Linked DNA regions of Homo sapiens. The protein of the gene in region 4 interacts with the protein of the main gene of each other region in a pairwise test. Each region holds a gene or a part of one and is shown on either strand. Other genes may lie near its edges. The genes, in order: TIGAR, C4orf33, RHEB, LAMP2, SPSB1, PCYT2 and COL2A1.

The links.
Region 1: the proteins of LAMP2 (region 4) and TIGAR interact in binary tests that used the Homo sapiens proteins (3 or more experiments, as listed by UniProt).
Region 2: the proteins of LAMP2 (region 4) and C4orf33 interact in binary tests that used the Homo sapiens proteins (3 or more experiments, as listed by UniProt).
Region 3: the proteins of LAMP2 (region 4) and RHEB interact in binary tests that used the Homo sapiens proteins (3 or more experiments, as listed by UniProt).
Region 5: the proteins of LAMP2 (region 4) and SPSB1 interact in binary tests that used the Homo sapiens proteins (3 or more experiments, as listed by UniProt).
Region 6: the proteins of LAMP2 (region 4) and PCYT2 interact in binary tests that used the Homo sapiens proteins (3 or more experiments, as listed by UniProt).
Region 7: the proteins of LAMP2 (region 4) and COL2A1 interact in binary tests that used the Homo sapiens proteins (3 or more experiments, as listed by UniProt).

Annotation. Positions count from the first base shown.
Region 1 is NC_000012.12:4,327,713-4,331,212, reverse strand, and holds part of TIGAR (fructose-2,6-bisphosphatase TIGAR), read right to left. Parts: intron 1-3,500.
Region 2 is NC_000004.12:129,109,652-129,113,151, reverse strand, and holds part of C4orf33 (UPF0462 protein C4orf33), read right to left. Parts: coding exon 3,480-3,500; intron 3,162-3,479; coding exon of another isoform or gene 3,074-3,161; exon of another isoform or gene 3,022-3,073; coding exon of another isoform or gene 3,003-3,021; exon of another isoform or gene 2,810-3,002; intron 1,467-2,809; coding exon 1,361-1,466; 3' UTR 1-1,360.
Region 3 is NC_000007.14:151,474,896-151,478,395, forward strand, and holds part of RHEB (GTP-binding protein Rheb), read right to left. Parts: intron 2,521-3,500; coding exon 2,438-2,520; intron 1-2,437. UniProt on the Homo sapiens protein: Small GTPase that acts as an allosteric activator of the canonical mTORC1 complex, an evolutionarily conserved central nutrient sensor that stimulates anabolic reactions and macromolecule biosynthesis to promote cellular biomass generation and growth.
Region 4 is NC_000023.11:120,448,797-120,452,296, forward strand, and holds part of LAMP2 (lysosome-associated membrane glycoprotein 2 isoform A precursor), read right to left. Parts: intron 333-3,500; coding exon 174-332; intron 1-173. UniProt on the Homo sapiens protein: Lysosomal membrane glycoprotein which plays an important role in lysosome biogenesis, lysosomal pH regulation and autophagy.
Region 5 is NC_000001.11:9,295,894-9,299,393, forward strand, and holds part of SPSB1 (SPRY domain-containing SOCS box protein 1), read left to right. Parts: intron 1-3,500. UniProt on the Homo sapiens protein: Substrate recognition component of a SCF-like ECS (Elongin BC-CUL2/5-SOCS-box protein) E3 ubiquitin-protein ligase complex which mediates the ubiquitination and subsequent proteasomal degradation of target proteins.
Region 6 is NC_000017.11:81,901,400-81,904,899, forward strand, and holds part of PCYT2 (ethanolamine-phosphate cytidylyltransferase), read right to left. Parts: coding exon 3,434-3,500; 3' UTR 1,350-3,433; coding exon of another isoform or gene 1,221-1,349; 3' UTR 1,128-1,220; coding exon of another isoform or gene 879-1,127; 3' UTR 1-878. Other genes in the region: NPB (neuropeptide B preproprotein), read left to right, coding at 879-1,127, 1,221-1,349. UniProt on the Homo sapiens protein: Ethanolamine-phosphate cytidylyltransferase that catalyzes the second step in the synthesis of phosphatidylethanolamine (PE) from ethanolamine via the CDP-ethanolamine pathway.
Region 7 is NC_000012.12:47,987,477-47,990,976, reverse strand, and holds part of COL2A1 (collagen alpha-1(II) chain isoform 1 precursor), read left to right. Parts: intron 1-1,171; coding exon 1,172-1,216; intron 1,217-1,695; coding exon 1,696-1,749; intron 1,750-3,267; coding exon 3,268-3,366; intron 3,367-3,500. UniProt on the Homo sapiens protein: Type II collagen is specific for cartilaginous tissues. It is essential for the normal embryonic development of the skeleton, for linear growth and for the ability of cartilage to resist compressive forces.

The DNA.
Region 1 (3,500 bases), on a different chromosome or scaffold from region 4:
GAGCAATCAAGTGTGGTGATACTCTAAAAATATCATGTGAAACTTGTAACACACTTCATAATCCAACCTGTAAAAACAATTTATTCTAAACTAATATTTGCAATTGTCTTCTTTAATGAAGAGCTAAGAATTTCAAACTACTCCAAACTAAAACGTGTAGATCAGGAACCAATCTTAAGTGAATTGCAGGTGGAAAATCCTACTAAAAAATATAATGCAAATAACATTTCAGCCAAATAATTTTGTTAAAAGAAATATATTGATCAAAACTACTCTTACTGGCAGCAGGAACAAAAACGTGAGAGTCAGTCTATTCATTGCTGGACTGAATGAGCAAGTGAAAGAGAATCTGAATGGAATGGGAGAGACGTGCACAAACCTTCAGAACCCCCTGCCTTCTCTTAGTTCCTAGGTCTTCAGCAGTTATTTTTTGTAGTACTGACAGCTATCTCGCAGACCAACTAACTGCACACTGAACTGAGGTTTGAGTACTACACTTTTAAAAACTAAAATACCAAAACAAATCAAAGCAATCTGAACCAACCGGAAGGGTAAAAGAACTGGAAACTTTGTCAGAAAATAACTGGGGTTACTGAGGCTGGAGGGGGAAAAGGGCGGGAAGTGCATGGGCAAGACTGGACAGACAGCAGGATAGGTTAACAATAATGCAACTTTCAAATACATGAAAAGTAGAATCAAAGAGAATTCAGCTGAAATTTCTTTGAGCACTAATTAAATGTTTGCTGACCCAACCTACCACTAGAATTGCTGGGCCATAAGGTATGCAAATACCAGCTTTATTAGGTAATGCCAGTGTCATAGCAGGTTACACCACCCTGTAGTGTGGTGTACCACCCTCAACAAGATTCAGTGATGGAAGGTTTCTTCAATTTGTACCAATCTGGTACCTGAACAATTCATCTCACTTTAATTTTAATTTGCATTTCCTTGATTTCGATGGAAAATGATCGCTCCATTGTTTTTAAGTGAAGCACTAGTTTATAATAATTAAAATGTCACATAGGACTGATTTACTCAGATCTAGAAAAAAAAATCTACCAGACCTGGAAGTCAGAATCACAAACTCAGGCCTCATCCTGGAATCTTGCCGCTTGTTTACAAAAACAGCTGTATGCCAACCTCTGCCAAGATACAGATTGCTGGATTTGGCCAATATGAATGTTCTTTAAGACCCAACACAAGACTGGTTCTTTTAGGTAGTCTCCCTCCCCAGTACCATTCCCCATCTACCTACTCTATTTAATACCCACACTCTATACTCCCATGGTCCCCTGGCACTACCAACATAAGTTTTCATCTGTGTGCTAATTGACTTTTTAGCTCTGTGTCTATCCTGGCTCCAGTTCCTTAAAGGCACAAGCAGGGATTGCATACCCTCAACATGCCCAGGGCCTGGAGAAAATGCTGGGAAATGACAGAACTTCAGTGAATGTGCTTTTACCTAGGGAGGGTCATCTGGAAATACCTATCAAAATGACAAATCTGTTTACCCTTTTATCCAATAACCCAATTACTGGGAATAACTGAATTCACTCATATTTAAAAGATTATTTGTGGCCAGACGTGGTGGCTCATGCCCGTAATTCCAGCACATTGGGAGTCCGAGGTGGGTAGATCACGATGTCAGGAGTTCAAGCCCAGCATGGCCAAGATGATGAAACCCCATCTCTACTAAAAATACAAAATTTAGCCATGCGTGGTGGCGGGCGTCTGTAATCCCAGCTACTCGGGAGACTGAGGCACAAGAATTGTTTAAACCCGGGAGGCAGAGGTTGCAGTGAGCTGCAATCACACCACTGCACTCCAGTATGGGTGAGAGAGCAAGACCCTGTCTCACAAAAAAAAAAAAAAAAAAAAAAAAAAGATCATTAGCTACAGTATTATTTCTAATAGCAACAGATTATAAACAACCCAAATGTCCATAACTCATTCCTTAACTATGGCCAGAATAACCATTATTTATATTAACAAATAAACAGTGACATATCTACCTAATGGAATCCTATGTAAATGTGTCCTTTAAAGAGAGAGATTATATGTAAAGATATGGAATGCTCACCAAGATATATGATTAAGTAGAAAAAGCAGGGTATAGAGTAATATAAAAAGAAAGCTACCCTTTTAGAAAGGAGGGAAATAAACATCTGGATCTGCACAAAGAAACAATGGAAGGATAAACATGAAACTAATAAATGTGGCCACCTATTGGTTGGGGGAAGAATAGGAAGACTACGGAGAATTGTTTTGATTTCTAAATATGTAGATGTATTAGCTTAAAAAATAAACGTATGATAAAGAAATAAAATTACACAGAACTGGCCAGGCACGGTGGCTCACGCCTGTAATCCCAGCACTTTGGGAGGCCGAGGTGGGCAGATCACGAGGTCAGGAGTTCGGGACCAGCCTGGCCAACAAGGTGAAACTCCGTCTCTGATAAAAATACAAAAATCAGCCAGGCATGGTGGTGAGTGCCTGTAGTCCCAGCTACTCGGGAGGCTGAGGCAGAAGAATCGCTTGAACCTGGGAGGTGGAGGTTGCAGTGAGCCAAGATCATGCCACTGCACTTCAGCCTGGGCAACAGAGCAAGACTCTGTCTCCAAAAAAAAAAAAAAATACATGGAACTATTTATACCTTGGTAAAAAACCAACAGCACTGATTTGCCATTATCATTGTTGTTAATATTAATAAAAGATTACCTAGGCCACATGCAGTGGCTCATGCCTGTAATCCCAGCACTTTGGGAGGCCAAGGAGGGCAGATCACCTGAGGTCAGGAGTCCGAGACCATCCTGGCCAACATGGTAGAATCCTGTGTCTACTAAAAATACAAAAATTAGCCAGGCGTGGTGGCAGGCACCTGTAATCCCAGCTATTCGGGAGGCTGAGGCAGGAGAATGACTTGAACCCAGGAGGTGGAGGTTGCAGTGAGCCAAGATCATGCCATTGCACTCCAGCCTGGGCGACAAAAGCAAGACCTCATCTCAAAAAAAAAGATTTCCTACACTCCAAAATTCATTCAGAATCTTATAAAATGGGCATGAAAGAGGATATTAGCCTCTACCATTCAGATGGATAAAGCAGAAGCATTCAGGGCAAACATGGGGAACCTGTCATTTTTAATCTAGAAAATAGTTACCATGTATTGGATTCACTTCCTGTCTCAGCCTCAAAATCTTGCTGAGACCAAGAATAAAATATCTGTTATTTCAATATAAGTAACATCCTCGGCTGGGCGCGGTGGCTCATGCCTGTAATCCCAGCACTTTGGGAGGCCGAAGCAGGCGGATCATGAGGTCAGGAGTTTGAGACCAGCCTGGCCAATATGGTGAAACCCCGTCTCTACCAAAAATACAAAAATTAGCTGGGCGTGGTGGTGTGTGCCTGTAGTCCCAGCGACTCGGGAGGCTGAGGCAGAAGAATCGCTTGAACCCAGGAGGCGGAGGCTGCAGTGAGCCGAGATTGCGCCCTCAAAAACAAAA
Region 2 (3,500 bases), on a different chromosome or scaffold from region 4:
GTGCTTCATTTTTATCCATATTATAAATAGTTATGATTTATATCTGAAACTGTGATTCACAGTGTTCGATTCGCTTCTAAAATCAAGATGCTCTAAAATATATCTTGTTTTTATTTTGATAGTTTTATATGCATTTATAAAATTATTCAGGTAATTTATAAATAAATCGTCCTAGGTTATTTAAAATATGCCATTCGTATCTAAAACAGGCAGATCGTTTCTATATCAAATTAATTAGTTGCTATTGTCAGTTTTAAGAATAATTTCTCAATTTATCTAAGATGCCTAACACTGCCACCATGATGTGTAGTCAGGATACTTAATAATACCTTTTGTAAAAGTTAGCATTTATCTTACACCAGCTCTCTTTTTAGATAGAGAACATATATAAGAAATGAGTAAGTCGATAAGCCACATTTAACCATCACTAGTGATTGTTCAATGGAAACATATAAACTCAATGTAAACTTGAAGTTAATTCCATTTAATTTACAGCTTATTTTATAATAGTATTTTATTAAGGAATTAATTTACATATAGTAAAATCACAAATCTAAACATACAGCATGAGGAATGTTGACAAATATATGCAGCTACATAACCATCATCCAGATCAAAATACAAAACATTTCAATCACCCCGGAAAATTTCCTCAGGCCCCTTTTCCATTCAATTTGAATTCCCTGCCCTCACTCTAAGCAGCCACTGTTCTGGTATCTATCATCAAATATTAGTTTTGCCTGGAAGTGGCTTTAATATAAAAGTAATTAGATAGTATGTTATGTTTGGTTTGTTTTGCTCAACTTAATGTTTTTGAGATTCATACAGGTTGTTGCATGTATCAGCAGTCCTTTTTTAAATGAACAGTATTCCACTGACTATATTGTAGTTTGTCTATCCATTTTCCTATGGATGGAAATTTCACTGTTTACAATTTTGTGCTATTATGAATAAAGCTGCTATGAGCAGTCATTTTTCTGGGGTATATATCTAGGAATGAAATGGTTGAATCACAAGGTAGTGCAAGACAGTCCTCTAGGTGGCCTTGGACAACCTCAATTGTTCCCCCTTTTTCACTTGTAGTTTTCAAGAATAACTGTACTGTGTGCTGGGAATGCAACATCCTGGACTAAGTGACTCTGAGAAACATTGTGACTTTACAGATGAAATCATCTACAAAGAATCATATATTTTCTTGTTAATCATATACAATTTGCCACAGATACTATATTTTCAGTGACTTCTATGAAGATATTTGTTGTTGAAATGTATGCATGACATCTTAAAAAATTGATATTTATTTTTTGTTTATCTTAAAAGGTATAGAGGAAAAAATGATCGGTATGGTTATCTATTACTCCTATATATCACATTTCTCTATTAGCCACAGGTCTGATTCCGGTTGTTTCCACTCTTCTCCAAGCAGTGTGTTAAAATTGAAAGACTTGAAGTATTCTAGGCAATGGCTAAAAGCAAAGAAAAAGAAGGTGGGAATTGAAATGAATTATGCATTTGTGAAATAGTTGTCCTGAAGGGCTATTTATTTTGTCACAACTGTAATACAACATTCTATTTTAAGCAATACTAAAGGTAAGATATATTTTATATGTACAGTTTTCTCACTCTAGCTGTCAAACACTCAGCTCTGAAAACATTCACCTGCATCTCAAAGCACTCTTCTTTCAATTCTGCAAATAACTCCCTCACAGCTGAAGGGAGAAATCAGTTCTCAAAACATAACTCATTCCATCCAGCTTTAAACAAATCATATTATGCTCTTGCATATGTTTTTATATTCAAACTTTGATATAATTTATATCAGTCATATAAGCAATTGTTTTGAAAAGTTTCAGTTCCATTGATAAGATAGACTTCTTAATTCCCTTCTCTGCTGAAGCAAGAGAGGTTAATGTAAAAGAGTATTAATCCCAGTTCTTTTCTTTCGAGGAAAACCACTTAACTACATTAAGAAGCTTTCTCTTGTGGCTTAATGAGGAGAGAAAGGCTTAGCTAACATGCTGCAGTGGAGCCCCACTCTGTAGGAAGTCACTCTGCCTTGGCTCTGTCCTGGCCAATGTATAATCGTACTTCCACCTAAGATAAGCTTCCAAATAATGTATGAATGAAGAGCCTGAATATAGGAAGGTATTAGCTGATGAAGAGCCAGAGAGACATGACGTCTTGATATGAGGACCTTGAGTCAGTTGCAACTACATGTTTGTCTCATTCTGCCCACCTGGCCAGGATAAGTCAGTTTTTGAATCACAATTGTCAATCCCAGAGTAAGAGATTAAGGAAAAAACAGTGAAGGATAAGAAAAAGGAAGGGGAAAAAAGACTAGGTAAAAGCTATGTCAGGATTGGGGAGAAAGGCAAAGGGAAAAGGGGAAAAAATATCAAGCAAAATAAAGAAATATGCTAGAAGTGATAAAGACAAAGAAGCATAAAGTAAGAGCATGGCAGGAAGGAGAAGGCAAACAGGGAGAGGAAGGACGATGCAGCACATTCCACAGGTTAAAAGGCAGGAATGTCCATCTACCATAGTGCAATGCTCACTAGGATGTTTCTGTTAGGTTCTTCCAAATGCCCAGACTCACGAGACTACCTTGGCCATAGTGAGTATACCTAGAGAGATATAGAGCAGCAATCACAGCTTGCCCCAGGACAGCATCTGGCTTTCCTCCCTAAAGGAGTAGTCCTTGCAGAAGTCCATGAAGCATTCATAAGGCTGGCCAGGAGCTCTAGTCTGCCTATGTGAGAGCTACAGGTGCAAGGAAACAAGACTCAAATTGAGAAAGCATAGCAGATAACTTGGCTCAAATGCCTGCTGCCCCATGAGAGCAATATCTCTTGGAATAACTCCATAGCCATAGCTTCCAGGGTTCCCACAGGGAACATGACTGTTACAGGGGAATCCCAAAGCCATGCTGTCTCCATCATATATTTATAGTTCATCCAAAATTATTCTCAGTCCAGATGTAATTTGCCACTTAAGGGTCATTTTTATCGTAAGCAGTGTTGCCTAGAAACATAGTTGATATTTTTATCCTTATGAGGTTACCAGAAGAGGAGAACTAGAGAGATAACTGAAGATTAGATTTCCTTGTAACAGGGGACTGTTTGTTCACACCAGGAAACACTGATGCCTCTGGCCCTTTAGCTCTGAAAGAAATTTTAAATGAATTTGTGACCATACTTCTATATCAGCTATTACAACATTTACTTTTCTCACATGCAAACAACACTTTTCTCATACCACTATGGAAAAATAAGTGCTCTACTGACAGTAGTGAGAGAGATTATGACAGTCCAAAGTTTTCCAAGTATTTTCTGAGGACCATCAGTGAACATTGGACTCTACTAGATACTTGTGCACATATGTCGTCTTCTTTGATCAAAAGTGTTACTTCTGCTCCACTAAGAATTAATTTCGAAAAAACTCGTGTATTTGGAACATATCTTCATTTATTTTCTACTTACAAATCAGGTTTTTGTCCTTGC
Region 3 (3,500 bases), on a different chromosome or scaffold from region 4:
TATTTGTGTATTCAGCATATAGGTTTCTAAAAAACAAAACACCACTCTTCTCACACTCATGTTTGAGATTTGAGAATGCTCATTAAACTATGAGTTACTGAGGTAAAAGGCATATAACAAAAGAAAACACACCCATTTTAGTAAGGAGAAACTTGGTCAAAACTTGCAACAGTGCCACTGAGAAGACACAGTACCAAGCTTTTTGTCCTCTGCTTTGCACTAGGCCAGTGTTTTCTCAAATACATAAGGTCCTTGGTGAGCACACTTTCATATTTTTAATCCAGCTCAATGTATTTTTCAATTTCCCCAGTGGCACATGCTATGTTTTCAACTTGATTCTATAATGTCATCTAATTTGTGCACACCAAAAAAGAGACTTAAAAAAAATCAGTGGATGCACTAAGAAAATTTTCTACCTACTACTTTAATGCCTCAAAGTAACAATTTGTAAAGTAACACCAACACTGTTTTCTAAAAATCAGCTAGGATAAAATTGTACTTACCAACAACAAAACAATCTTTGAATCATGTTTTTCAAGTAAATTAGTAAAATAATGGAAATTCATAAACAAACATGAACTTCCAACATTCATTAGATTATTGGTACACTAAATTTGTTCTGGACAAGGCCTTACACGTGGCAGTATATACATTTTAAAAATATACAACTGAAATTAAAAAAATCTTTGTATAAAAATGGCCAATAGTTTTACTATTTAAAGTGCTCTTATAAGTCAGTAAGAAAATGATCATGTTTCCAAATACTAAGTACACAGTGGTTTTAAGCATAAAATCCAATCCAAGCATTGCTTTCAGTGACAATATAAATAAATACATTAAACAGGAAGAGAGATATCCATCTATCATTGAACATGAAATATTATAAAGCCATTTACTATTTCAAATACTAGGTAATATGGAAAAATATATATTACATGGTAAGTAAAAATATAAAAACATGGAAAATATAAACCATAAAACAGCATTCAGAGAGCAAATAAAAGGATGTTAAAACAATCCATGCAGACTAAAACAAAGACCAGAAAAAACATATACCAAGATATTAACAGTATCTATGCTTAGGTAATTAGATTAAGAATGATTACCCTCACTTTCTATTTTTCACAGTTCCTCAATTTTCCTTAAGGAACACATAATTCTGGTACTTGGTTTTGATTCAGGTGTAAACTTTCTCGGGGATTGACAGTATGGGGTCTGTTTATAAGAATGGCCGAGAATGGTACTCAAACATTTTATAGCTAGAACTCAACACCCTAAAGTATGTTTCTCTGCCACGGAGAAAAATGTTAAACAACACACTCACAGAGCAGCAGACTGAATTTTCACTGGCAGTGGAGTATGTGGGGGTAAGGAACCCAGACACTGGCCAACATGGCAGCCTCCAGCCACATGTGGCTACTGAGCACCTGAAATGGGGCTACTGTAACCGAGGGAGGCTTAATTTTCCATTTTTAGTTAAACAGCCACCTGCAGCACAGAGAGCAAACACTTCTATCACCGCAGTAAGTTCTATTGGACAGTGTCAGCCTTGACTGTGGAACTGGAGAGATGGCTATGAATCCCAGCAATGTCATTATGTAGCCCTGGGCAAGCTGCTTTAGGTCTCTGTCACTCAGTTTCTTTCCACGTAAAGTGGGATATAAAACATCTCTGATGAAGGATTAAGGTAATGATGAAATAAGTAATGTATCATATGTAGGCAAAGAGAGTAGCAAACTCCCTAACATGTCGCACACACTCAATAGATGCTACGTAGCCACCAAACGCCCTCCACTGGCACTGATATTTTCATAAAGTCTTCAAACATAAGCTGTCACCAATGCCCAGAGCTCCGCTGCTGTATACAGCCAGCTGTTCTGTTAACAGACACAGACCACTGCTCCTCCTGATAATACATGCCATCCCCCGATAAGAGGAGACATGAAATACGTAGCTAGAGGAACCGATATCCATTCTTATTAATAAAAATAGTGGCTTTGTTTTTATGTAGTAAAGTCAGACTCTATTACCAAAAGGTCTTATTTCATAAATTCAAAGGATAAGATATTGAACAAACCCAAACCCCCACATTTTATTAGAAAGTCTATTTCACCTTAATATGGTAAAAACACACACAAAGTAAAATTAATTTAGGCATTTCCCATTTCAATTAGCAGAAAAGCTTAGATCATGCTGAACCACTGTTTTTCTAGGTAGCTTGAGGTAAGAAAGAGCCTTTTATCCTATTGGTGTAACTAACAGAACATCTAGTGGGCCATGTTTCCCAGCAATCCAGTTGCTCCACGAGAAAATCACTAAAAAACATGTAGCCTAATAATTCTAATTGTCACTATTAATAATTCCAGCACAGTCCCTTAAAAGGATCAATGTTATCTATGAGTAGCAAATCAACTCAAGCAGGCAGCAGGAGTCTTACCTTTTGATTGATGTAACAGAATACACAAGAATATAGCCATTAATATCTATGGAGTATGTCTGAGGAAAGATAGAATATTCATCCTGTGGGGAAAAAAAATTATCTTTGAGTAGTCTTCATATAGCATCACAAACAAACTTTACCCAAAGTTTTTCATGTATTACCTGAAGAAATCAAAGTAGACGCAGAGTGGATTACAATATTATGCCAGAAACAGCCTACAAAGTGAAGCTTTAAGAATGGCCTGGAGGTGATAATGTGGTTCAAGCCAATATTTAAAAATGACTAGCTGTTCTAGAACTTTAGGGGAAAGTCTGATGACCTTCATAATTTCTGGGAGAAGAGGATGGATGGAACACAAAAATCATTGGCTCTGTGATCTCAAAACAAGGGATGAGCATCACTAACTCCAGAACCTTCTAGACCTCAGGACATTTATAAATCCTGCTGATTTATCCCATAAATCTGTATTTTTATATTTGAAACTGGCATATTATTTGATTTATTCTCTGCATGTCAGTCACAATGACCTGAGCTTCAGTCTACAGGTTGCTAGAGGGGTGCCATCAGCATCTGAAGGAGAGAGGGAGAGAGGGAGGGAGGTGGGGGAGAGAGAGAGAAACAGAGAAAGAGAAAAGAGGATCAAAACACCAGGTTCAATTGAGGTATTCAGACTTTTGGGGACCAAGAGAGTTATTTACTGAGCAACTCTAGGAATTAAAGAGAAAGGTACCTATTACGCAACAGCACAGTAGTCTTTAGTTTTATAAAGCAGCGTTATGACACTTTGCTTTATATACGTATTAAAGCATACAGAAAGTTCTGATGTCAGTGCAGTTTTCAACAGCACGCGCCACTGTCTGGTACGAACGTTTCATTCTTAGTTGAAACTAAATTGTCAACATAACACATGTCCTAAGCACTATTATGGAAAAATCACATCATGGTACCAGAAGATTAAGCAGCAGTCTATTATTTTTGTAAACTTATAGTATGGTTATAACCACTGTTTATGACAGCCCAGAATTACTGCCCTATGGTAAAGTTCTTTAAAGAAAAAAAA
Region 4 (3,500 bases):
TAAGATACACAAAAATAAGAATTGCTATTATTTACAAAAACTTTATAGCCTAGTAGAAGCTATGAATAAACCTTAATATATAAATGCTTTCAGATAATGACTTCAATGAAAGCTACCTGGTATACTCTACTCTTAAATTAGGATCCAAGTAGAGAAATATATACTTTACTCACCATTTGTGCTCACTGTGCCATTTTGGACAAAAGCTTGTACAAGAACATCCCAGTAGTGTTGGACAACATCATTCTTTTCCAAAGTTGATAAACTATTGCATCTAAAAAGGTCATTCAATGGAATTCTGATGGCCAAAAGTTCATCAACAGTAAGAATTCCTATAAAACAAGATTAACAATGGCTATTTCCAAGAAGGTAGGAGAAAAGTGATAATATAAATATATTTGTATAGGCTTTCTTCTTCTCTCTGCCTGCCCTACCCCAGGCACAAAGTGACAAAGGATATAGCATGCTTAAGGGCATGACTAGTTCACTGTGGCTAAAACATAAGGAGTAAGGGGGAAGAAGAAATGGGGGTTAGGGGCTGGGCACAGTGGCCCATGCCTGTAATCCCAGCACTTTGGGAGGCCGAGGTGGGTGGATCACCTGAGGTCAGGAGTTTGAGACCAGCCTGACCAACATGGTGAAACCTCGTCTCTACTAAAAAGATAATAATTAGCTGGGCATGGTGGCAGGTGCCTGTAATCCCAGTTACTTGGGAGGCTAAGGCAGGAGAATTGCTTGAACCCGGGAGGCGGAGGTTGCAGTGAGCCAAGATCGCCCACTGCACTACAGCCTGGATGACAAGAGCAAAACTCTGTCTCAAGAAAAAAAGAAAAAGAAAGAAAAAAGGAAAAGAAATGGGGGTTAAGAAGGAAAGACAAGTTGCAGGTGATCATACTTTGAAGCATCTTCTATGATCTAAGGCCTGTTTGGGCTTTTCTTTTTAGCAGTCGAGGGCTAGCCTCAGTTTTTAAAGCAGAAAATAACACATATATAATTTATTTTAAGGAAGATAGCAAATTTGTAGGGGATAAGCAGGGGGAAAAACTTTTCAGGGAAGCCACTTAAGAGGGAAACCAGAGGGTGATGGTCTGGTTAAGGTGAAGGGTAAGGGAGGGTTGCCTAAACTAAGATGGTGTGGGGCAGTAGAAAGAGAGCAAAGAAGCCAAACTGAAAACACTTATCTATGGTAGAATCATCAGGACTTAGTGACTATAACTAAAGAAGCAAGAGAGATGGATTAATCATACATTTGTATAGTAAATCCTTATTTTTGTTTTACTAGTCCCAAGTAAGTTATATTAACTCCAATGAGCTTATAGAACCGCTTCCTGGATTACATTTAAAGATGATTCCATTTCAGGGAATCTTCAGAGTATGAAAGCAGTAAGTTACAGCCATTTCATATAGTTTTTATTAGCCTGTGTATAGTGAAACTTCAAAAGACGATGATCACCCAAGTGGTTTGGCTTCTTTTGGAGAAGTAGCAAGAAAGGAAAGTATCCAAGGTCCTTAATATAGGCTGCCTTCTGTGCCTCTCCATCATGTAGCAAGCAGCCATATAATGCTGCCTTGGCACCCCCTAATGGCCATAGGAATTAAAAAACAAAACAAAACAAAAAACCAATGAACTAGAACATTTTTCCCAGAATTGCTTCTCACCGTTAACAAAAATGAATAGATACGTGACTGGCTGTATATAGATGGACTTCAAAAGCAAATCAGCAAAAAAACAACTTGCAGGCATATTGGAGTTATACTATGAATAGCTTTTTTTAAACTATGTATTGTTTATGAACACGTACTTATATAGTAAAAGACAAACATAAAGACAGGAAGGTTATACCCCAAATTTGTGAAAGTGTTTGCCTCTTAGCAGGCAAGAAGGAAAATGGGTCTGGGGAATGAAGACAAAGGAAATATCAACTGTATTGTCAACGTTTTATCTTTTTAATCAAAAAAGTAACACAAACATTAAAAAAACAGCATTTATTAATTCTGGATAATGGGTACATATGGGTCTGCTATATTATTCTCTGTATACATATATAATCTTTATAGATATATAATCTTTATATATATATATGTATATGTAGAGCCTTTTAAAAAACCCTTATTATATACGTAACTTATATATATATAATTTTTTTTTGAGATGGAGTCTTGCTCTGTTGCCCAGGTTGGAGTGCAGTGGCATGATATGAGCTCACTGCAACCTCCACCTCCTAGGTTCAAACGATTCTCATGCCTCAACCTCCCAAGTAGCTGGAATTACAGGTGCACGCCACCACGCCCAGCTAATTTTCGTATTTTTAGTAGAGATGGGGTTTCACCATGTTGGTCTCGAACTTCTGACCTCAGGTGATCTGCCTGCCTTGGCCTCCCAAAATGCTGGGATTACAGGCACGAGCCACCACACCTGGCCAGTACATTTCTATATTTTAATCACGAAAAAAATTTAAAAAAGAAAAAAGCAGCTTCAATGTTACTTCAGTTATCAGATGCCTAAAAATAAATTAGTAGTTTTTTATTTTTATTTTTTGAGACAGAATGTCGCTATGTTGCCCAGGCTAGTCTCACACTCCTGAGCTCAAGCGATCTGCCTGGCCTTCCAAAGTGTTGGGATTACAGGCGTTGAGTCACTGCACCTGGCCTAAATTAGTTTTTTTTGTTGTTGTTGGGGGTGGGTAAGGAAGGGTCTCCCTCTGTTGCCCAGGCTAGAGTGCAGTGGCGTAATCTTGGCTCACCGCAACCTCCGCCTCCCAGGTTAAAGCGATTCTCCTGCTTTAGCCTCCTGAGTAGCTGGGATTACAGGCACGCACCACTACCACCCGGCTAATTTTTGTATTTTTAGTAGAGACAGGGTTTCACCATGTTGGCCAGGCTGGTCTCAATCTCCTGACCTCCAATGATCCACCAGCCTCAGCCTCCCAAAGTGCTGGGATTACAGGTGTGAGCCACTGCGCCCAGCCATAAATTAGTATTCTTGAAACACTGAACTATATCAAAAACAATTATTAATAGTCCATTTCAGGAAGCCATTTAACATTCCAAATAGTTTCAAATATTATTATATAGAAGGTAGTAATTTAAAAAGTAATCCTCCCTTTGTTTTAAATAAAAGGGGAAAGAGAGAAGTGTTAACATTTCAGGGTCCATAGTTTTTCTATCCAAATATGTCAGATTAAACACCTCCTCCTAATAACTGCTAACAACTGATGCCCCTGTAGTCCAGGCATTTATTACATCAGCCCTTGATTACTATAACAGCTTCTTAAGCCAGCATCTCTGCTTGTAGCCTCCTCACTTCTCAACTAATCCTGCAGAATATTCTTTATAAGCTACTGTCTCTGCTTTTGTTATATCATTCTCCTGCTTTAAAAACCTAAAATGATTCCCCAGTGCCTGCCCCATCAAGCTAAATGTCTTTCCTTGGCTTCCAAGGCCCCCTATAATTTAGGCCCACTTCATTTAGCCAACTTTATTTTCCTTCTGCTACACAC
Region 5 (3,500 bases), on a different chromosome or scaffold from region 4:
TCAGACGACAGCACAAGGTCAGGTACAGGTGTGCCTCAGTCTGCCCAGGGGTGTGTTATCCTCTCCCCAGCCCTCAACACTAGATCAGTGAAATCCAGACTCTAAGGGACTTCGATTTTGGACTTTCAGTGAGTGCTCTCCCCTCCCCCAGTTATCTGATAACATCTCCCCCAGTCTAAAGTTCCACTGGCAGCCAGGTGCCCGGCTCTGTGCTACAGAGTGCTTTATGGACGTGACTTTGTTTGAATCCTAAGCATAATAATAGCGGGAAATGGTTTCATGGTTTCACGGTGCGTGCGAGTACTGGCTCTGATCTGAGTCCTTGACGCATTGACTCATGGGCTTCCTGAGGACCCTGAGAAGTGGGTTTTGCCTCCATGTCCATTCTGCTGAGGATTGCAGGTAACTTGGCTAAGGTCTCGCGGCAAGGGAATGGTGGAGCCAAAACTCGAATCCAGACTTGGCACCCAAGCCCTTCACCAGTAAGTTTGTCACCTCCACCACCTGAGCCTTTTCTTCAAGAAGCATGGGCTCATTTTTTTAGTGAAATTTTTTGTTATTATGGAAAATGTCAAACACACCAAAGTTAGAGGCAGAGTATAATGAGCGATCAGGTTTCCTCACCTCGCATGCACACACATACACATACTCACATATGCACATGCATACTTATGCTCACAGAAGATGTGCACATGTGTACACACACATACATATGCACACACATATATGCACACATACACACACACGCTGGATTATTTTGAAGCAAATACAAGATGTCAGGTCATCTGTAGCTTCTTCCTAAGAAGCATTTAAAGGAAGCATCACATCTCAAAGAGGTTGACTGTTACTCTATGCGGGGCAAGAGTCGGGAGATGTACGTCCTTTCTGACTTGGGCTTGAGGCTCCTTCCTTGCTTGGACAAAGGGAGGATGGCAAAACCCAACAGCACATTGGGGGATCTGTCCTGCTGCCAACCCCCTGAAACCTTTGGGAAGCTGCCTGTTTGCTTTGTGTTTTAAAAGTTCTGTTCATTGCCCAACGTTAAAAATAAATGAGTCCAGTGGTCATGAGACAGACCACATCAACAACAGGCTTAGGCTCTCGGGGCCTTTCTTGGAGATGGGGAAGAGAATCCGCCAAGGCACAGCCCAGCCTTGCCTGCCATTGAGGTCCAGACCTTGTGCAATGCAGGCATGGGATTTGTGGCAGGGCTGGGTGTCAGGAGATGTGACTGTGAGAATGGTTTGTCAACAAGCTCTGAATCTGACCTGAAGCTTAGCCTGACCCTCTTGAGTTTACTGCGTAGGCGATGGGTGGAGGAATCCAAGAACCTCTGCCACCCTTGGGCGTCTCTTGGAAAACTAGGGAGGCATTGGGTGATTTGAGCACAAGATGAAGAAAATATCAGGATGCAAACTCCACACTTGAGAAATGACTGCTGAGTAGGAATATAGGATTCCAGGGTTGGAAAAACCTACCTGTGACAAGGGCTTGACGGGTGCCCCAGTTGTGAACACACCTTGCCAGACAGTCAGAGTGTGGCCAATCTGGTCACACCCTTTCCAAGGTCAGAGTGAGGAGCTGCACTCCACACCAAGAGAACCACTTGAGTTTTCTAATTTATACAAGCAGACACCAAGGGAGCATGTGTGGGAGTGGATATTAGGATGTGGAACGAACATGAAGTTGGATCTGGCCGAATTTATGGATATGGGCCCACTAAGCGGAGATTCTGCACTTGATGTTGTAGCTCAGGGGGTTAAGAAGAGATCTGTTTGGTTGGCTGACTGGAACATGGATCAAAGGATGACCCACTGTGAGTAAGTTGGAGTTTCTGGGTCTCCTTTGGTTTAATGTAGAGTTAGGGATTCATAGGCTTAGGTTTCATGTAGAGTTAGGGATTCAAAGGCTTAGGGACATTGGAATGCTGGAGTGGATTTGTCTCTTAAAAGCTACTCACCCACACTGGGAAGGTTCAGAAGACAGATCTTTCACGCATACGTTGAGAAATAGATTTGTGAGGGGGCCCCAGCATCCCTGAAGAGCTCCGTGATCCAGCCCTTACAGTGGGAGCCGCAGTCACTCAAATGGAAAACTTAAATGCAACGGGAGTAATTGCATTTGGAGTGCAGCGGCCAAGTGGCAGTACTCAGCCATCCAAGGCAAGGTGAGTGTGGTTACCTAATGGACGGCAGAGGCAAAGCTGCCGTCAGAATAGTCTGACTTGTGTGGATCTATGGCATTGGATAGTTAATCATGGTGTTCCTAGAAGTGAAATAGACAGGAAACCCGTGAAATTCTTACTTGATCTTATAAGTTACTTGATTCTTTTAAGTTTTCTGTATAAGCAGAAACTTACAGGTCAAATGAAAAAAAGTCTAACTTGAATAATTAAAACAGAAAAATAATTAAAACAGAAAATCACAGCCCTCAATCAACTTCCCAGACTTAACCCAGTTTACACAACTAAGCCCCCATGAATGAATGAATGAGTGAATGAATGAATGAGTGAACGAATGAATGAATAAGTGAACGAATGAATGAATAAGTGAATGAATAAGTGAATGAATGAATGAATGAATTGGAAGCTGGATCCCTTTGAAGAAGGACCTCAGTACACTAGAGAAAGTTTATGCTATTAATTTTTCTCCTAGCCTTCCCCAAAGGGACCTGTGACCTTTTACCAGAGTGAATATGTATTGAGGAAAGGGAAATAATTAGATTGTTCGGGGATAACTGGTTACTGAACTGATACTGATTCCAGGAAACCAAAAATATCACTCACTGTGGCCCACTAGTCAGAGAAGGGGCTTATGGAGGTCAGGTGATCAATGGAGTTTTAGCTTAGGTTTGACTCCTGGTGGCTCCCGTGGATCCCTGAACCCATCCTGGGGTTATTTCCTGGTTCCAGATTCAAAGTTGACATACTTAGCACCTGGCAGAATCCACACACTGGTTCCCTGCCTTGTGCGGTGAGGGCTGTTATGGTGGGAAAGGCCAAGTGGAAACCATTAGCGTTGCCTCTGCCTGGGAAAATAGTACATCAAAAGCAACATTGCATCCCTGGGGTGGGGCTGCCGAGATTAGCACCACCATCAAGGACTTGGAGGAGGCGGGGGTGGTGACCCCCACCACATCCCCATTCAACTCTCCGATTTGGCCTGTGCAGAAGACAGATGGACTTTAGAAACTGATAGTGGATTATTGTAAACTTAACCAAGTGGTGACTGCAAAATTCACACATCTCTGGTCCCTGCTACTGCATGCAGCTGTTGATCTGACGAATGCCCTTCTCTTTATACCTGTCCATAAGGCCCAGCAGAAGCAGTTTGCATCCAGCTGGTAAGGCCGGCAATGCCCCTTGGCGGTCTGGGCTGATGGGTATATCAGCTCTCCAGCCCTATGTCACAGTTTAGTTCACAGTCATCTTGATCACCTTTCCCTTCCACAGATATCATACTGGGGCTGGGCACGGTGGCTCACTCCTGTAATCCTAGCAC
Region 6 (3,500 bases), on a different chromosome or scaffold from region 4:
TGACAATACTTTGCATCCTTCAATCCAGTCAAGCTGACACTCAGCATTCACCATCACACCTGGGAAGCATGGAACCCAGAAACAAGTGCCAGGGCTCCAGTGCCAGTGCCTGTCCTGGGAAGATACCCAAGAGAAGACATGACCAGGACCTTGGGGGAGCATGAAATGGTGAGGGCACAGTGAGCTTGAAGGCTGATGTCACCTGCCAGGAGAGCGGCTGGCAGTCCTGCCTGGTGCCCCCCAAGGGGCAGAGCTGGCAGAGAGGGGCCTCCAATCGAAGGCCAGGAGTCGTGGAGCTCCAGTGCCTTGGTGTGGCTGGCCTTCTTGCCCCCCTCCCAGAGGACCCCGCCAGTAACAGCCCTGCTGGTGGAACCTTCCCCAGTGGGCATGAAAGAAATGAGGGCCCCACAAGCCACATGGACTCTGATGCCTGGAGCCAAGAATACCCCTTAGGGTGGTAGAAACCGCCCCCGGGGCACTGTGCAGTGTGGCTGGCTCTCCAGCATCAGGAGTACTGGGGATTGCCTGGGGGACGACTCCTAGGGCTGGGCGCCCGTGGGCCCTCCCCTGCTGCCACTGCGGCCCACGCAAGCCGGGCCTGAAGGGCGCGAGCGGCATGGGTGGGGAGCTTGAGGGGGCGTTGGGCTCCCACCAAGCGCCAGATCCTTGCGCGCCTCCAGCGCTCGCCCGCGCGGCTGGTTCCTTTGGGATGCGGAGGTGCGACGGCTCCTCCGCGCGCGCCCGCTGCACCCCAGCCCGCCCGCCGCCCCTCCCGGCCCTCCGCAGCCTCGGCCCGCCCTCGCCGCAGATATAAGGCGGCCCAGGCGGTGGCTGCTCCGAGCCCGGACGCCGCCGCCCACCAGTCAGCCGGCGTCCCCATGGCCCGGTCCGCGACACTGGCGGCCGCCGCCCTGGCGCTGTGCCTGCTGCTGGCGCCGCCTGGCCTCGCGTGGTACAAGCCAGCGGCGGGGCACAGCTCCTACTCGGTGGGCCGCGCCGCGGGGCTGCTGTCCGGCCTCCGCAGGTCCCCGTACGCGCGGCGCTCCCAGCCCTACAGAGGGGCGGAACCCCCGGGCGGGGCCGGCGCCTCCCCGGAGCTGCAACTGCACCCCAGGCTGCGGAGCCTCGTGAGTCCGGCGTGCCGGGGACTGATGGGGGGCGGCGGCAGGACGTGGGTGGGGGTGCGGCGGCCCCTCAGCCTTTGCTTGCCTGCCCCCCAGGCTGTGTGCGTCCAGGACGTCGCCCCAAACCTGCAGAGGTGCGAGCGGCTCCCCGACGGCCGCGGGACCTACCAGTGCAAGGCGAACGTCTTCCTGTCCCTGCGCGCAGCCGACTGCCTCGCCGCCTGAGCCCGGACCTCTCCTGGCACCGCTGGGGGCCCCCCGCCCCCACCGTCCCACTCGGTGACCCCAGGCCCCTCCGGCGCGGGATGGCGCCCCAGGTCTCCCCTACTCCGCTCACCCCGCAGTTAATGGCAAACGAATAAATAAATGAGGCGGCCTCGGAGTGAGGGGTGCTGGAGGACTGGCAGCCAGGCCACGAGGGGAACGGGACCTGGAAATCCCCAAGCCTGGGTATGAGAAGGCAGCCGAGTGTGCGGCGGCAGGGCAAGGTTGGCCTGGGCCGCCCAGAGGTCTTCAGACCCAGGGGCGAAGCTGGCCACGACCCAGCCCCGCGGTGAAGCCGCGCCTAGCCTTGGTGCTCCCTGGGGGAAGTGCAGGGCCACGGCTGGCCCGGTTCCCAGTGTCCTCCCCCAGCCCTTCGCTCCCCAACTCGAGAGCCAAATCTGTGAGGGCATGGGCTGGAGCCCCTGGCTGCCTTCCTCTTGCCCCCATCCCTTCTGGCCAGGCCAAGTCCGAGGGTGCAGGGGCAAGGAGGAGAGTTGGGGGCCTGAGCCCTGGCTCCAGAGGCCCAGAGCATGCCTCCCCAGAGCTGAAGGTGGGAGATGGGTAGGTTCTCCCTCCGCCGTTGGGTGTGACTCCGGAACTGGCTTGGGCTCTGGCCTCCAATGCTGCTACGGGGCCAGGCCCACCTCCGGGCCCAGGCAGCAGCACTGCAGGGCCTTTCTACCCTCCCCAAGCCTGGGGCCCAGGCAGCCCCTGTCCAGCACCAATCTGTCTATGGGGAACTGGCTGGTCCCTCTGCTCAGGGGACCCCGCAGTCCAGGGTTCTGAGTGGGAGCATTGGCACCACCCCACTCCTGAAAGCGGGGGCCTGGCAGGATGAGGATGGCCTGTGCCCCCCACACCTTGGCCCCTGGCTCGGAGAGCAGGGTGACAGGCTGCCTTCCTGGGCTGTGGAGAGCCTCGCGTGCACCTCGCCTCCAGCTCCTGTGCTGGGTCGTGAGGTCGACCTCACAACAGCAGAGGACAGGCCCATGGGGTGCCACATGGGCCAGGTGCTGTAGGGCAGAGGCCATTCTGGAGAGGAATGTGGGGCTGAAAAAAGTACTGATCATAAGCCTCATTTTGAATGCGGCGAGACCAGGCAATCTATGGCCTCCCTAGACACCTCCCGGAGGCTGCAGTAAGAACCTCTTCGGCCTCTGGGCTGCTCCAGGCGGGCCGTGACAGGGGTGTGGGAGACAGAGATCCCATGGCCCCTGGAGGGGCCAAGGGGCAAGGAGCCTCAGCTCTGGCTCTCCTCCTTATTCTAGCATCGCCTGCTACAGGGGGTGGCCCCAGGCTTTGGAGGGCTGGAGGCCTGGGTTTCACTCACTGCCAGGCTGCCCGCTGCACTCCCGGCTGCTGGGTGCATGGTGGGGGCAGGGCCAAGAGGGTCTCCTTGCTGAGTGGTTCCCTGGTCCTTCCCAGCAGGGCTGGGAGCCCCGCGCAGCACTGCCACCAGGCTTTATTCGGTTGTACCAAAGAGATTTCCGTCAGCCATGTACAAACAGAACAGAGTCCATAAGGAGAGTGGCGAAGCTGCCGGGAAGGAAGGCAAGCGTGTTTTCCTGGAGCCAGGCGCTGGGTGGCAGGACACCGTGTTGGGGGGTGCCCAGTGGGAGGTGGTGTGGTCTACACCCAGAGAACTAAAGGGGTGACCGCAGTCACTGCTCCCTAAAGCCCTCTGCTCTGCACCTCCCGCCACAGCTGGGTGGGCAGTCAGTGTGGCCTCTGTCCAGGTGGTGGGGGCATCCGGGGACCAGGTGGGGGCGCACGCAGGAGCGGTGCGTTTCAGGCTGCAGGTGCCGTCTGCCCGTCTCACTTCCGGCCTCTCCACTGTGCTGGACACCCTCTCTGAGCAGCTTTGCTGGAAAGAGCGGAGAGCCTGCTGCAAACCAGGCACCTTGTAGGCAGGCAAGGAGGCAGAGTCCTCACCAGCCCTTCCAGAGCCAGGCCAGTTAGAGAGGGCGGCCCTGCAGAGTCCTATGTCCAAACGCAGAAGGCGCAGAAGCAGAGCAGGGGGAGGGCCGGCCAGGGCCTCTGCCAGGTTAGAAGTCACCATCGCGCTCCCCCAGGGGCTGTGCCGCCTGCTGCCTGGCAGCCTCCAGGAAGGCC
Region 7 (3,500 bases), on a different chromosome or scaffold from region 4:
CCCCTAAAGCATCCTTCTTTAGCTTCTAAGGAGAGGCAGAGACTGACAGGCAGGACTCAGCAGGAAAAGGTACCCCCCTGACCTGCTCAGTCAGGCCCTAGGCCCAGCTCCACCCAGCCTGTGGCCCCCAGAGTTTCGGTAAAGAGTTCCCTGGGCCTTAAGGAACCTTGAGAGAGCATTTGAGGGGTGCCACCACAAACTTGGCAGAAAAAACCCTCCCCCTCCAAGTCCAGTCCTAGAGAAGGAGCTGGCAACCTTGCCTTGCTTTGTAAGCAAAAGCCTCTTAGGGCTTGAGCTCAGATGTAGTGTTTGAGCTGTGGCTGGTGCCCTGCCCCATCAGGGAGCCAATGGTAGACATCCTATGGGCATCTTTGTTTTCCGTAAGAGCAGGCTGTCTGGGGATGGGCCAGAGGAAGAGGCAACCTGGAGTCAACCAAGAGGAGGCCTTAACCAAGCCTTAACCACAGAGGTTAACCAAGCCTTGAAAGCGCTTCCCCCTGAGCAGGCAGGAAGCACTGAGTCCACATGGTTGCCTCGCTGTTTCATTTCCTTACACTCAATTCTCTCAGTCTTTAAATGATCACTTGGCCTTGAAGTTACGGATATTTGGGGTCTGAACTGAAGTTGAAGAAAAGAGAAAATGATTTAAGCTTTGTTTAAGATTAGGGGCCAGGTGCGGTGGCTCACGCCTGTAATCCCAGCACCTTGGGAGCCTGAGGCGGGTGGATCACCTGAGGTCAGGAGTTCCAGACCAGCCTGGCCAACATAGCAAAACCCAGTCTCTACTAAAAATAACAATAAAAAAAATAGCCAGGTGTGGTGACACATGCCTGTAATCCCAGTTACTCAGGAGGCTGAGGCAGAATTGCTTGAACTTGAGAGGTGGAGGTTGTAGTGAGCCAAGACCGCACCACTGCACTCCAGCCTGGCGACAGAGCCAGACTCCGTCTCAAAAACAACAACAAAAAAAGATTAGAAGAAGCCCATTACTGCCTTCTGGCCACCCACTCGCACAGACACCAAAACTGCAGCCCACACCTCGCCATCCTCGTGCTCTGCCCTGGGACACCCCAGGCACAGTGTGTCCTTCGTTTTCTGTAAGGGTGGGCTGGGAGCAGGGACGGACAGGGCCTGTGGGCACCTCTCATGGTCACTTCCTTCTTGCTCACAGGGTGCCCGAGGCAACGATGGTCAGCCAGGCCCCGCAGGGCCTCCGGTAAGTTCATTTCATCCTCAGCAGGTCATTGTTGCTGTGCTTTAAGTCCCGTTAAGCAGCCCAAGGCAGTCTGCAGGGTGTATTGGGTGCAACCACAGCAGCACTCTGATGTCTACTGGAAAGGGGGAGGAAAGAGAAGAAGTTTGTAAATATCAATTGAGCATATCGATAACAAGCTTTGAAGCATGGGCTCATTTTCCTCAGCCATCCTTTCAGCAGTCTTTTTAGAGGAGGGAGGTCAAAGGAGTTTCTGCTTCTCACCACAGATGTAGTCAGAAACTTGCTTTGCCTTCTGAAGCCAGGCAAAGTTTCCTGGGGACGCTGGCAATGGGGACAATTTTCATCCAAGGCCTTTTAGCCACAATGGATATGGAGTGAAATCAGTACAGAGGAGGGAAGGAGTGTGAGGTGTCGGGGTGGCTCGCTTTGGAGGCCAGAACTGGCATTCACCTCTCTTCTCATCCGCCTACTCTCTCCAGGGTCCTGTCGGTCCTGCTGGTGGTCCTGGCTTCCCTGGTGCTCCTGGAGCCAAGGTACGTGCCCTGTTGTCCAGTCAGGAACTTCTGGGTGCCGAGAAGCTGTCCTTTCCCCGTAACCCTTGCTCATTGCTCCCTCAACAACCACCTGCTCCCTTCTGAGAAGTAGCTCCCCACCACCCCACCCACTGGCCCCTCCATCCAGGCAGGGCAAAAAGCCAGACACTCGCAGTCTCACCTGGAGGGAAAGTAAGACAGAAGATAAAATGTGGGAGATCCAGTTACAACTTTGGAGTGGGGAAAGGTGGACAGAGAAGAAGACGGGGATACACCATAGGCCTGGCAGGGGCAGAAGGCCAGGAGTGGCAGCACAGGGAAGCAAACCTAGGGGAGACCCAACAGCTGAGCAAGCTCGGGGCCCTGACGGGCACTGGAGGGAACTGGGCAGGGAAAAGGGCACAGGCAGGGAGCCCCTGCTCCCCTCTGGGTTTCTGCTTTATTTGGGGTGCCTGGCTCTTCCAAACCATGTTAACGGAGTTCTCTGGAGGATTACTAGAGGCCAGTGGGAGGCCAGCCAGTTCAGGGACAGGCCTCGCAGCCCAGGAAGGATTCCAGTGTGAACGTCCCTGGGAATGAATAAGGAGCCTCCATGTGTCACTGGCATCAGGTTGCTTTTCCCCTCCTGGGGGTTTCCATGGCAACCAGACAGTGTCTGAGGTCCCGGAGCCGGGTGAAGGAGACCCATTGTGAAGAGGGACAGCGGAAGGTGAGGGGGGCTGACCTTTTGAAAATAATAATTACCACAGTGAAGCAGGAATGTTCTGAGAAGAAACCTGAGGAGGCTCTGCCCTCTCTCCAGGTCAGCAGCCCTCCCCAGGGACTCTGCCATCTAGAGTGGGTTGTAATTTTCAGGAAAAAATGAAAGTAAAAGCACAAGCCATTTTGTGGGGAGGGGGCTTGCCAGAGGCGCCCGCTAAGGGGAATTGGGCTGTATTGAGAGCAGGGAGGGGCAGAGTCCCCATGTGCTTTTGCCTTGGCTTTCTGGCTTACTGAGAACAGACTGGGGCCGGAGCCAGGGTGTCACTGTTCACCCGTCAGCCAGATGGGAGTGAGGTGGTGCTCTGAGCTGGGATGTTCAGAGACTTAGAAGGGACCTCAGCTCCTCAATAAAATAGAAAAACAGGAGGTGGGGGAGAGAGCGGTGTCCGTCCATCATCCCACGGTGCCAGGATGGCAGGGTCCCCAGCCCACGCTTTTCTGATGGTGTCGATGGAACAGCAGGTTGCCCATTGCTGTAGTATGTAGCTGTGCCGTGGCATGTGGAGGCTCACTGTGTAGAGATGAGGTAAGCAGTAGAGGAGGCAGGCGTGGGAAGTCATCAAGTCATCAGCTCGGTCAGGCAGGGAGAAAAACGGCAGCGTGAACTGTGTGTGAACGCACATGTTCATGTGCAGGGTTGGGTGCATGTGCATAATTTAGTGCTGTGCTTGCAGCTGGCCCTGAGCTATTGCCCACCCACTAGAGGTCTGTGTCCCCTCTCTTCTTCTTCATTTCATCCTCCCTGTCTCTTCCCAGGGTGAAGCCGGCCCCACTGGTGCCCGTGGTCCTGAAGGTGCTCAAGGTCCTCGCGGTGAACCTGGTACTCCTGGGTCCCCTGGGCCTGCTGGTGCCTCCGTAAGTGCAGCTTCTCTTTGGCCTGGGGGGGTCTGGGGTCTGTGGCTTTGGAACTCTTGACTCTGTACTTTGCTCTGACAGTTGTGGGCTCCAACCACCAAACCTTCATTCTGGCCCAATGCCTGTCCCCACCT